Linked DNA regions of Homo sapiens: region 2 is linked to region 1. The links come from fine-mapping of genetic effects on gene expression. A gene starts in region 1. The other region holds a variant in brackets. All regions are shown on one strand. Distances are from middle to middle.

The links. PIP is the estimated chance that this variant, and not a neighbour inherited with it, causes the effect. A credible set is the group of variants that fine-mapping cannot tell apart.
Region 2: its variant is the best candidate, but not a certain one, in a credible set for the expression of CCSER2 in whole blood (TOPMed, PIP 0.61).

What each region holds. Positions count from the first base shown.
Region 1 is chr10:84,325,787-84,331,170 of GRCh38, reverse strand. It overlaps CCSER2 (coiled-coil serine rich protein 2), which reads right to left and starts at 2,582. Exons shown (of 10, transcript NM_001284240.2): 1 at 2,363-2,582. RefSeq lists enhancers at 562-641, 1,689-2,038 and a silencer at 2,089-2,818.
Region 2 is chr10:84,576,652-84,582,035 of GRCh38, reverse strand. No RefSeq gene overlaps it. Among named protein-coding and RNA genes, the nearest start is that of CCSER2, 250 kb to the right of the region's middle. The variant A/G (reference allele first, on the strand shown) is at 2,947.

The sequences.
Region 1 (5,384 bases):
AAGCAATCTCAAACAAGTTGTCTTTTTAGGCTGAGTTGTTTAACCGTAAAATTTTTAAAGTTGAACCAAATAATCTGTTAATTCTTTCAAGTTCAATATTCTATTGACCCTTTTTTCAGAACACATCCAAGTCGCTCACAACTCCCATTCAAATTGTAAAACAATTAAGATTTAGAATTAGGAGACTGGGGGCAAAAGTGAAATACACAGATGGTCAAAAGACCTGGACTGTAATCCCCGCCATCCCTTTCTACCTGCGTGACTTTGCGCCTCAAAATAAAGTTGTAGGACCAATGAAGCAGCAATCTTTATTGGTCATGCCCTTTTTATTCCTGTATCATAAAATGGATTTTTTTTAACATAACTGGGGTTTCATTCCTAACCAGCCTACAATCCCAGCACTTTGGGAGGCCGAGGTGGGCGGATCACGAGGTCAGGAGTTTGAGACCAGTCTGGCCAACATACTGAAACCCGTCTCTACTAAAAAAAAATTAGCCAGGTGTGGTGGTGTGTGCCTATAATTCCAGCTACTCAGGAGGCTGAGGCAAGAGAATCGCATGAACCCAGGAAGCAGAAGTTGCAGTGAGCCGAGATGAGGCCATTGCACTCCAGCCCAGGCCACAGTGCAAGACTCTGTCTCAAAAAACACAAAAGAAACCCCAAAACCTGGTGGAGACAGACACATAAACAAATCATTAACTACCAGTTGACAAATACTAACTGGAGAGTGTACGAATCAGTTAAGACAAGAGGGATGAAATGTCTAGACAAGCCTCAGAAGTGCTACTTTCGTAAGGTCTTCAAGGGCAAGTTGTTTACTAGGTAGAGAATTCTCAACAAAGAACACTGAAAAACCACAGAGGAAGATGTCATCTTCAGAGAACTGCAACAGTCTTATATAGAGAGGGCAGGCATAATGGTAGAAGATGACACTAGAATGGAGACAAATACCGCTAATCATGAAGGACTTTGAATTTTATCGATATAGACTATGGAGAGTCACTGAAGGACTTGTAAATATGGATTCAAAGTCCCTTCCTCCAAAATAGTCAAAGGAGTTGAGTCAAAGCAACAAAAAATGCAGGTCTGAATGTGGAAAGGTAGAATTTTTACAGAATTCTTAATAGAGACTTTCGGCTTGCTTTCAGGATGGCTTCTAGTGCTTTCTTAACTATGGCTTATGCTGAAGTACGACAGTATGAATTATGGCTAAAGGGTTCAACAAAGTGTGCATTTTTAACCTGAAGATTATTTGAAGCCAATGTTGTTTAGAACACAAACGAAAACAAAAAATAACAGTAACAAGCTTTCATAAATTAAGAGAAACAGTAATAAAGTCCAAGAGGAAGAAGACTGATTTCAGGCAAACACTCAGGAATATTTACATTTTTATCACATATGGATGACGGATAAGACATGTTTTGAACCCATCTTTTGCAGGAGAGCATCTTAAGTTCCTTTTGGTTAAAGAGCAGCTGCCATCTCTAAAGTCTCTAGTCTAAAAGATGATGCTTTAAAAAAAACAACTGGCCAAATGAATAGGTTCCGTCATATTTTAATGCTCAGGAGAAAAGGAATGCTTTTCATATGGCTATTTTAAAAAGCTTAAAGCTCAATTTCTCTCTTACAGGAGTGAGCTACCAACACTCTAATCTGAGACCAGAGTCCCTGCGTCAGTCATTTCCACTCCGCTAAGGCCTTGTCTGGGAGCAGCCAGCCTCATTGGTCGGGGAGCCCACACAGATGAATATGCAATTACTGAAATGGAAACAAGCTTCGCCACCAAGGACCACCACAAAGGAGTCCCTTCATTCCTCCTTTTACTTTATCAAGAAAGTAGGTGCATTATTTAAAAATGTATGAAAATACATGTCTAAAGACAAGAGAGAAGATCTGAACCTACGGCAACGGTGTGCCCCACCAAAGTTTCACCTCAGGATGTGTTTTAGGGTGTGTCTTTCATTTAGCCCAGTAATTGAAAGAAAAAAAAAATCGAACTCATTCGGGGAGCCCCGGTACTTTCCCTATCCACCCTCACACGCAACCAGGCTCCGAAATCAGAGTGCCTCAGCCTCGCCCTGATTTCTCCTGAAAGGCGGCGGCGCCCGCGGCCCGAGGCCCCGCGCTGTCACAGCCGCAGGGAGGGCGCCCTCCGGCCTCCCGGGTCCGCGCCCGCCCCGCGTCCGGCGGCTCGCGAGGGGCTAGAGAGGCTCACCCTGGAGGCCGGGTACGGGAGGGCGACACCGCCTCAGCCCGGGAGTTCGGGCCTCCGCCCCGCCCCGGACTGCGTGCCTGGTCTTGGGCTGCCCCCGGCGCCCGCCGCGACCCCGGCCCCGGCTCTGGCCCTGAGCCCGGATCTCACCGTGCGGAGGTCGCGCTGCCTCCTCGGCCGCGGCCCAGCTGCAGGCCGCCCTGCGACCTGCGGGCCCGAGGACGGAAGGTGAGACGAAGGGCCGCCCGTCACATCCCCGCCAGCCCCGCCGCCCGAGCCGCAGCAACCAGCATCGCGTCCGCGGCCTGAGGGAGCGCCGGACTCCAAAGCCGCCGCGCCCCCTCCCTCGGCCGGCGCCCGCCCGGACTCCGCCCTCCAGGGCCGGCGCACCGCGCACGCGCAGTCCCGCCCCGCCGCGGGCCCGTGCGCAGGCGCGAGCCTCACGGGGCTACGGGGACCGCCCCCACCGCCTGATCCGGCCTCAGCCCACCTCTGGCCCCGCCCCGCCCTCACGCCAGGCTTTCCCAAGCTCCGCCTCCGCTTCGGGCCCCGCCCCCTCCACTGACCTTGCCTGGCCGCCTCCTGACTCAGGTTTTTGCTGGGCCCACGCAGTGACGCCAGTCTTGCGGCTGACCTCACCTCTAGCCGTCCCCTGGACTACATTTGCTGCTTGAGTGCGGTCAAACCTGACAGCTCCTCCTCCTGGATGTGAAAAGTGAGGAGTGGTCTGAGCATTGGGCATGACTGAACCACGCACCTGCCTACCGCATCAAAACACAGGATCTTGCTAAAGCTGAGGGGAAGGGGCACCCCAAGTGCTGATCTGGTTTTCCCTTTTTTTTTTTTTTTTTGAAACAGAGTCTCGCCCTGTCACCCAGGTTGGAGTTCGGTGGCGCTATCACAGCTCACTTGCAGCCTCCTGGGCTTAAGCGATCCTCTCGCCTCAGGCGTGTATCACCAAGCCTCCGAAATAATTACAACTAAGACCACACTAGTCAAAGTAAACTATCACAAGTTGACCCAAATACCCGGCTAATTTTTATTTTTTCTTTTTAGAGTTGGGGGAAGTGGTCTTACAGGCTAGTCTCAAACTCCTGGGCTCAAGCAATCCTCCCACCTTGGCCTCCCAAAGTGTTGGGATTACAGGCGTGAGCCACAGCTCCTGGCCAATGTGGTTTCTTTGCCAGAAACCAGGTCTTTCTTCCCTTTGGGGCTTCCATCCCCCAGAGGCCATCTCTTCCCCTCTTGTTTTTCCTCGACGCGGCCAGTCCTGCTGCTGAGAGTCCTCAGCCTGGAAGGCTTCCGGGCCTGGCCGGCTGTTTAAAGCTCTGGAGTTGCCCTTACCTGGTTGTAGACTTGCAGTTCTCTGAAATCCTCGTCGGCCCCAACAGCTCGGTTGTAATAACATTTCAGGAGAACTGCTTGAAAAATATCCAGTTCTTTCCTGTCTCCAGATCAATGATACTCAAATGGAAAAAGCAGACGGAATGCCTGATTTGTATAACCACACTTCATTTAATAATACACTTTCATATTTAGAAAATAATGTCTTTTAAATATCAATCCCTAAGATATTTAATGTATTGGACAATAATGTGTGCTTAAAATATTGACAAAGACTAGGTCTAAATGCTGTGCAATCTCTCTTTGGATTAAGTGAGATTAGAAAAGCAAACACCAGGCCGGAGGCGATGGCTCAAGCCTGTAACCCCAGCACTTTGGGAGGCCAAGGTGGGAGGATCACAAGGTCAGGAGTTCAAGACCAGGCTGGCCAATATGGTGAAATCCCGTCTCTACTAAAAATACCAACAAATTAGCCGGGCGTGGTGGCGCATTCCTGTAATCCCAGCTACTTAGGAGGCTGACGCAGGAGAATTGCTTGAACCTGGGAGGTGGAGGTTGCGGTGAGATGAGATCATGCCACTGCACTCCAGCCTGGGCGGCAGAGTGAGACTCCATCTCAAAAATAAAATAAAATAAAATAAAATGCCCAGGCCAGTTGTGGTGGCTCACGACTGTAACCTCAACACTTTGAGAGGCTGAGGCGGGAGGATCACTTGAGCCTAGGAGTTCAAGATCAGCCTGGGCAACATAGAGACCTAGTCTATTAAAAAAAAAAGAAATTAACCAGGCTTAGTGGCATATGCCTGTAGTTCCAGCTATTCAGAAGGCTGAGGCAGTAAGATTACTTAAGCCCAGGAGGTTGAGACTACAGTGAGCTGTGATCATGTCACTGCACTCCAGCCTGAGTGACAGAGCAAGACCCTGTCTCCAAAAAAAAAAAAAAAAAAAAAGAAGGCTAGGAAAAAACTTTCCCATAATGCTAATACATGTACATACTTAGCAGAATCACAATAGCATTTTAGTGTATTTTCCTAATTTTATAAGCATCCTTGATACGTTTTATTTGCTTTCAGTTAATTTTCCTGGGTCTTTTCTTTTTTTTTTGAGATGGAATCTTGCTCTGTCACCCACACTGGAGTGCAGTGGTGAGATCTGGGCTCACTGCAGCCTCCACCTCCCAGGTTCTGCGATTCTCCTGCCTCAGCCTTCCAAATAGCTGGGATTACAGGCATGTGCCACCACGCCGAGCTAATTTTTGTATTTTTAATAGAGACAGGATTTCACCATGTTGGCCAGGCTGGCCTCAAACTCTTGACCTCAAGTGATCCGCCCGCTTCGGCCTCTGCTGGGATTACAGGTGTGAGCTACCGTGCCCGGCCTGCCCTTCCTCCATCTTCAAAACCTGCAAGAGTAGTTTGAGTCCTTCCCACATTGCATCACTCTGACCTCCTCTTCTGTCTCAGTCTTCCACTTTTAAGGACACATGATTATGTTGGGTCCAACTGGATGCTCTAGAATAAGAACCTTATTTTAAGGCCAGTTGATTAACAGCCTTAATTCCATCTGCAACCTAAATTCTCCTTTTTTGGCATCCTCTTGATGTAAGAGAGAGACATTCTTTCAGGGGAAGTTTTAGGATTCCATGACAAACAGCACAATGAAACAGTTGATCCAGAGCCCCAGTAGGAGATGATTCTGGAGACCATCCAAAAACAGACAAGTTGGGTGCAGTCCCACACACCTGTAATTCCAGCTACTTGTGAGGTTGAGGCTGGAGGATTGCCTGAGGCCAGGAGTTCAAGCCCCACCTGGGCAACATAGCAAGACC
Region 2 (5,384 bases), 250 kb before region 1:
GTGTGTGTGTACTTGTTTTAATTGATAGATAAAATTTGTATATATTTGTCATGGACAACACGTTTTGAAATATGCATACAATGTGGAAAGGCTCAATCATAATACACTATTACCTCATGTACTTACCATTTTTGTGGTGAGAACACTTAAAATCTCTCTTAGCAATTTTCAATTATACTTGTTATTAACTATAATCACCACATTGTACAAAAGATCTCCTGAATGTATACCTCCCATGTAACTAAAATTTTGTACCCTTTGACCAATATCTTCATATTCTCCCTCTCCTTTTTTAGGTTTCACATGTAAGTGAAATGCAGGATATGTCTTTCTGTCCCTGACGTACTTTAACATTATGACCTCCAGTTCCAACCTTTTTGCTAGAAATGACAGGAGTTCATCCTTTTTTTTTTTTGAGACTGGGGGTCTCGCTCTGTCACCCAGGCTGGAGTGCAGTGGCACAATCTCAGCTCACTGCAAGCTCTGCCTCCCAGGTTCACGCCATTCTCCTGCCTCAGTCTCCCAAGCAGCTGGTACTACAGGTGCCTGCCACCAAGCCTGGCTAATTTTTTTGTATTTTTAATACAGACGGGGTTTCACAGTGTTAGCTAAGATGGTCTCGATCTCCTGACCTCGTGATCTGCTGGCCTCGACCTCCCAAAGTGCTGGGATTACAGGCATGAGCCACCGTACCCGGCCTGATTTCATCCTTTTTATGGCTGACTAGTATTCCATTGTGTACATAAGACATATTTTATTTATCCATTCATCCACTGGTGAACACTTAGGTTGATTCTGTATCTTGGCTATTGTGAATAGTGCTGCAATCAACATGGGAGTATACATACCTCTTTGGTATAAGGATTTCATTTCCTTTGGATATATACCCAGAAGTGGAATTGCTAGATCATATGGTAATTCTATTTTTAATTTGTTGGGGGACCCCCTGCTATTTTCCAGAAAGCCTGTACTAATCTACATTCTCACCAACAATGTGCAGGAGTTCCCTTTTCTGCACATCCTAAACAACATTTGTTATCTTTTGTCTTTTTGATTAAAGCCCTTCTAAAATATGTGAAGTCGTATTTCACTGTGGCTTGAATTTGCATTTCTCCAATGATTCATGATGTTGAGCATTTTTTCATACATTTTTACATACACATTTGGCCATTCGTGTGTCTTCTTTTGAAAAATGTCTATTCAAGTCTTTTGTCCATTTATTAATCTCATTATTTGTTGTCTTGCTGTTGTTCGAGTTCTTTATATATTTTGGACGTTAACTCCTTATCAGAAGTGTGGTTTGCAAATATTTCCTCCCATTCTGCAGGTTGTCTCTTCACTCTACTGATTGTTCCATTGGCTGTGCAGAAGCTTTTTAGTTCGATGTAATCCTATTTGTCTATTTTCACTTTTGTTACCTGTGTTTTGGGTGTCATATGCAAGTAATCTTCGCCCAGACTAATGTCATGGAGCTTTTCCCCTATGTTTTCTTCTAGTAGATTTACAGTTTCAGGTCTTACGTTTAAGTCTTTAATCCATTTTGAGTTTATTTTTATATGGTGAGAGATAGGGGTTGTGAGTGCCTTTTCCTTATAGCTCTTTTATTTGTCTCACAGTTTCAGATGATTTGACACCCCCTTTTCTTAGGCACTTGGCACAGACCATCTGAGGACTGGTTAGGAGACAATAGATGTAATACTGATTGGCCTCACTCAAGATTGTCACTCAATACTGGCCCTGCACAGAGTCCCTGAGCCTTGGAGTACTTGGGATTCATACTTCTGTCAGAGCTGCTGGGCTGCTTTCTTCCCCATAGTACACATTGCCCAGAAGGCCACCAGGAGGAGGAGACTGGAAAGAGGAGATGGAGGAGGAAGAATAACAACAGACGATTTGCCAAGCTCTGCCTCATCCCCGTAGTGGACTGCAGCAGCATCCTACCCCACATGGGTGATCTCAAAGACAGTCAAAAATAACCATCCTCACAGCTGCCAAAGCTTTGAGAGGAACATTTACTGTCCAGTTGCCTAAAAGAAAACATGAAGATGCACAGATGTCCAGTCTGCTGACTGTTCAGAAACCACTAGTCACTTCTACTAGTACTGCAGCATTGACCTTGGGTCTTCATTCACCTCTTCCCCAATGGAAGCCAGGGACAGCCTTCTGGTCATTGGCAGTAGAGAACAAGCCCATTAACAATGTTTGGTCTGAAGTGGCTTCTGTTGTGTGGGAAACTTAAAGGTCACAAAACATTAAATGTAGAATATCAAGCTAGGAAAGAGTGCATGTCGGGGAGGCAGAGAAATAATAAACACATTGAATATTTTCCCTTCATGCCTTTCATTATTTGACGAGTTGGAGCTTGTGAAACTTACGCAGCTCCAAACGATCTCAATAGTTATCAGTGAGAGAGTTCTACAGGTATTGGGTATGTTTGGCTATTATCTCAAGTACCATGCATTGCAGGTCTCTAGATTGAACATCCATTTCCCTTGTTCTTCTCTGCTCATTCCAGCTTGCTGATAATTTTACACCCAGTACTTTCATTTGACTGGTATTAAGGGACTCTTCATTCTTCTCTTCCCCAAGTATTCTTCTCTTCATTCAATACGTTCTGCCCATCCTCATGATTCCAGCATTTCATTCAACCATCTGCATTTATTTTATCTCCTCTCTAATACTTTACTTTCATTTCTCCCACAGTTTCTCCAAGTTCTCACACATGGTAAAAGAAGCTCTTTATCTCTTGAAACATTTAAGTCCTTGACTAAAGAAACATGCTCTCAAAAAGCACAAAACTATTTGATTAAATAAACTCTCAAAAATATAGCATTAATATAAATACTTGTATACTCTCATTTTTTTTCAAAATTGGAAGACATTTATTTCTCACTAAGTTTCAATTGTTGGCATACTTAAATACAGCCTACCCCTACCCTCATATAT[A/G]TACACATATATATTCTACATATACAAACATATGTATACACATACACACACACACATATATACAGTCATGCATCACTCAACCATGGGGATATATTCTGAGATGTGTCTTTAGGCCATTTTGTCATTGTGCAGACATCATAGAGTGTACTCACACTAAATGATATAACCTACTATGCACCTAGGCTATATGGTATAACCTGCTGCTCCTAGGCTAAAAACCTGCACAGCATGTTAGAATACTGTAGGCAATTGTAAATAACACAATGGTAAGTATCTGAATCCAAACATAGAACTGGAACTGTAAAAAATACAGTATAAAAGATAAAAATGGCACACCTGTGTAGGGTACTTACCATGAATGGAGCTTGCAGGAGTAAAAGTTGCTCTGGGTGGGTCTCAGATATTCCCTTATAGCAAAACAAGAATGGCTTAATAAAGTTGTCTGTTTATTAAGTTGTATAGACTCTGGATACAAGTCCCTTATCAGACATATGATTTGCAAGTATTTTCTCCCATTCTGTGGGTTCTCTTTTCAATTTCTGGATAGTATCTTTGAAGTATAAGTTTTTCATTTTGATGACATCTAATTTATCTATTTTTTGTTGTTGTTGCTTATGCTTTTAGTGTTATATTTTTTTCTTTACAGAGGTAATCAAGTTACAGTGCTATATTTAATAAACCATTGTCTAACCCGAGGTCATGAAGATTTACCCCTATGTTTTCACCTAAGGGTGTAATAGTTTCTCTAACATTTAGATCTGTGGTCCATTTTATGTTAGTTATATATATATTGTGTGAGATAAGGTGTTCAACTTCATTTTTTTTGCATGTGGATATCCAGTTGTCCCAGCAAAATTTCTTGAAAAGACTATTCTTTCCTTCATTAAATTGTCTGGGAAGCCTTGTTAAAAATCAATTGACCGTACATATAATGGGTTATTTCTGCATTCTAATTCTATTTCATTGATCTATATGTCTATCCTTATGGCAGTACCACACTGTCTTGGTGACTGTAACTTTAGAGTCAGTTTTAAAATTGAAAACTGTGAATCTTCAAACTTTGTTCTTATTTTTCAAGATTGTTTTGAATATTCTGGGTTCCTGGCATTTTCATATAAATTTTAAGATCAACTTGTCAATTTCTGGGGGGAAAAAACAGCTGGTACTTTAATTGGAATTGTGTAGAATCTGTAGAACAATTTGAGGAGTATTGCCATCTAAATAATACTATCTTTCAATCCATGAACATAGAACGTCCTTCCATTGATTTAGGTTTTATTTAGTTTATTTCAACAACATTCTGTAGTTTTTAGTGTAGAAGTCTTGTGCTTTATTGTGAAAATTATTCCTGAGTCTTATATTATTTTTGATGTTACTACAAATGAAATTTTTAAATTTCATTTTTTGATTATTCATTCCTAGCATATAGACCTACAATTGAGGCCAGGTGCAGTGGCTTATGCCTGTAATGCCAGCATGTTGGGAGGTGAGGCAGAAAGATTGCTTGAGCTCAGGAGTCTGAGACCAGCCTGGGCAACATAGAGAGATCTCATCTCTACTGGAAAAAAAAAAATGTTTTCAATTAGCCAGGCACAGTGTCACACACCTGTAATCCCAGCTACTTGGGAGGCTGAGCCAGGAGGATAAGTTGAGCCTGGGAGATAGAGGCTGCAGTGAGCTATGATCATGCCACTACCCTTCAGCCTGGGTGACAGAGTGAGACCTCACTTAAAAAAAAAAAAAAGAAATACAGTTGACTTTTACACATTAATCTTGCAATACATTAATCCTGCAATAATTCTGAACTTATTAGTTCTAACAGTTTTGTGTGTATGGATTACTTAAGATTTTCTATATACAAGATTATGGCATCTGCAATTATAGTTTTACTTATTTTTTTCCAGACTGGATGCCATTTAGTTTATTTTCTTGCCTAATCCACTGGCATGATCCTGCAGCACAATGTTCAATAGATGTTATAAGAGCAAACTTCCTTGTCTTGTTACTGATCTTAGTGAGAAAGCATCCAGTATATCATTATTCAGTGTGATGTCAGTTACGGATTTTTTTGTCAATGCCCTTTATCATGCAAAGAAAGTTCCTTTCTATTGCTACTTTGTTCTCTATATGTCATAAAATAGTGAAATGATTTTGTGAGATTTTGTAAAATGATTTTTCTATGTCTATTAATATCACTATGGTTTTAAAATTCTATTCACATGGTTTAGTACATGGACTGATTGTTTTAAAATGTTAAACCAACCTTGCATTCCTAGGATAAATCCCACTTGGTCATGGCATATAATCCTTTTTAAATATTCCTGGATTTGGTTTAACAGTATTATATGGAAGACTTTTGCATCTATACTCATAAAAGATATTAATTTGTAGCCTCATTTTCCTATGATGTCTCTTATTGGTTTGGATATAAGGGTTAT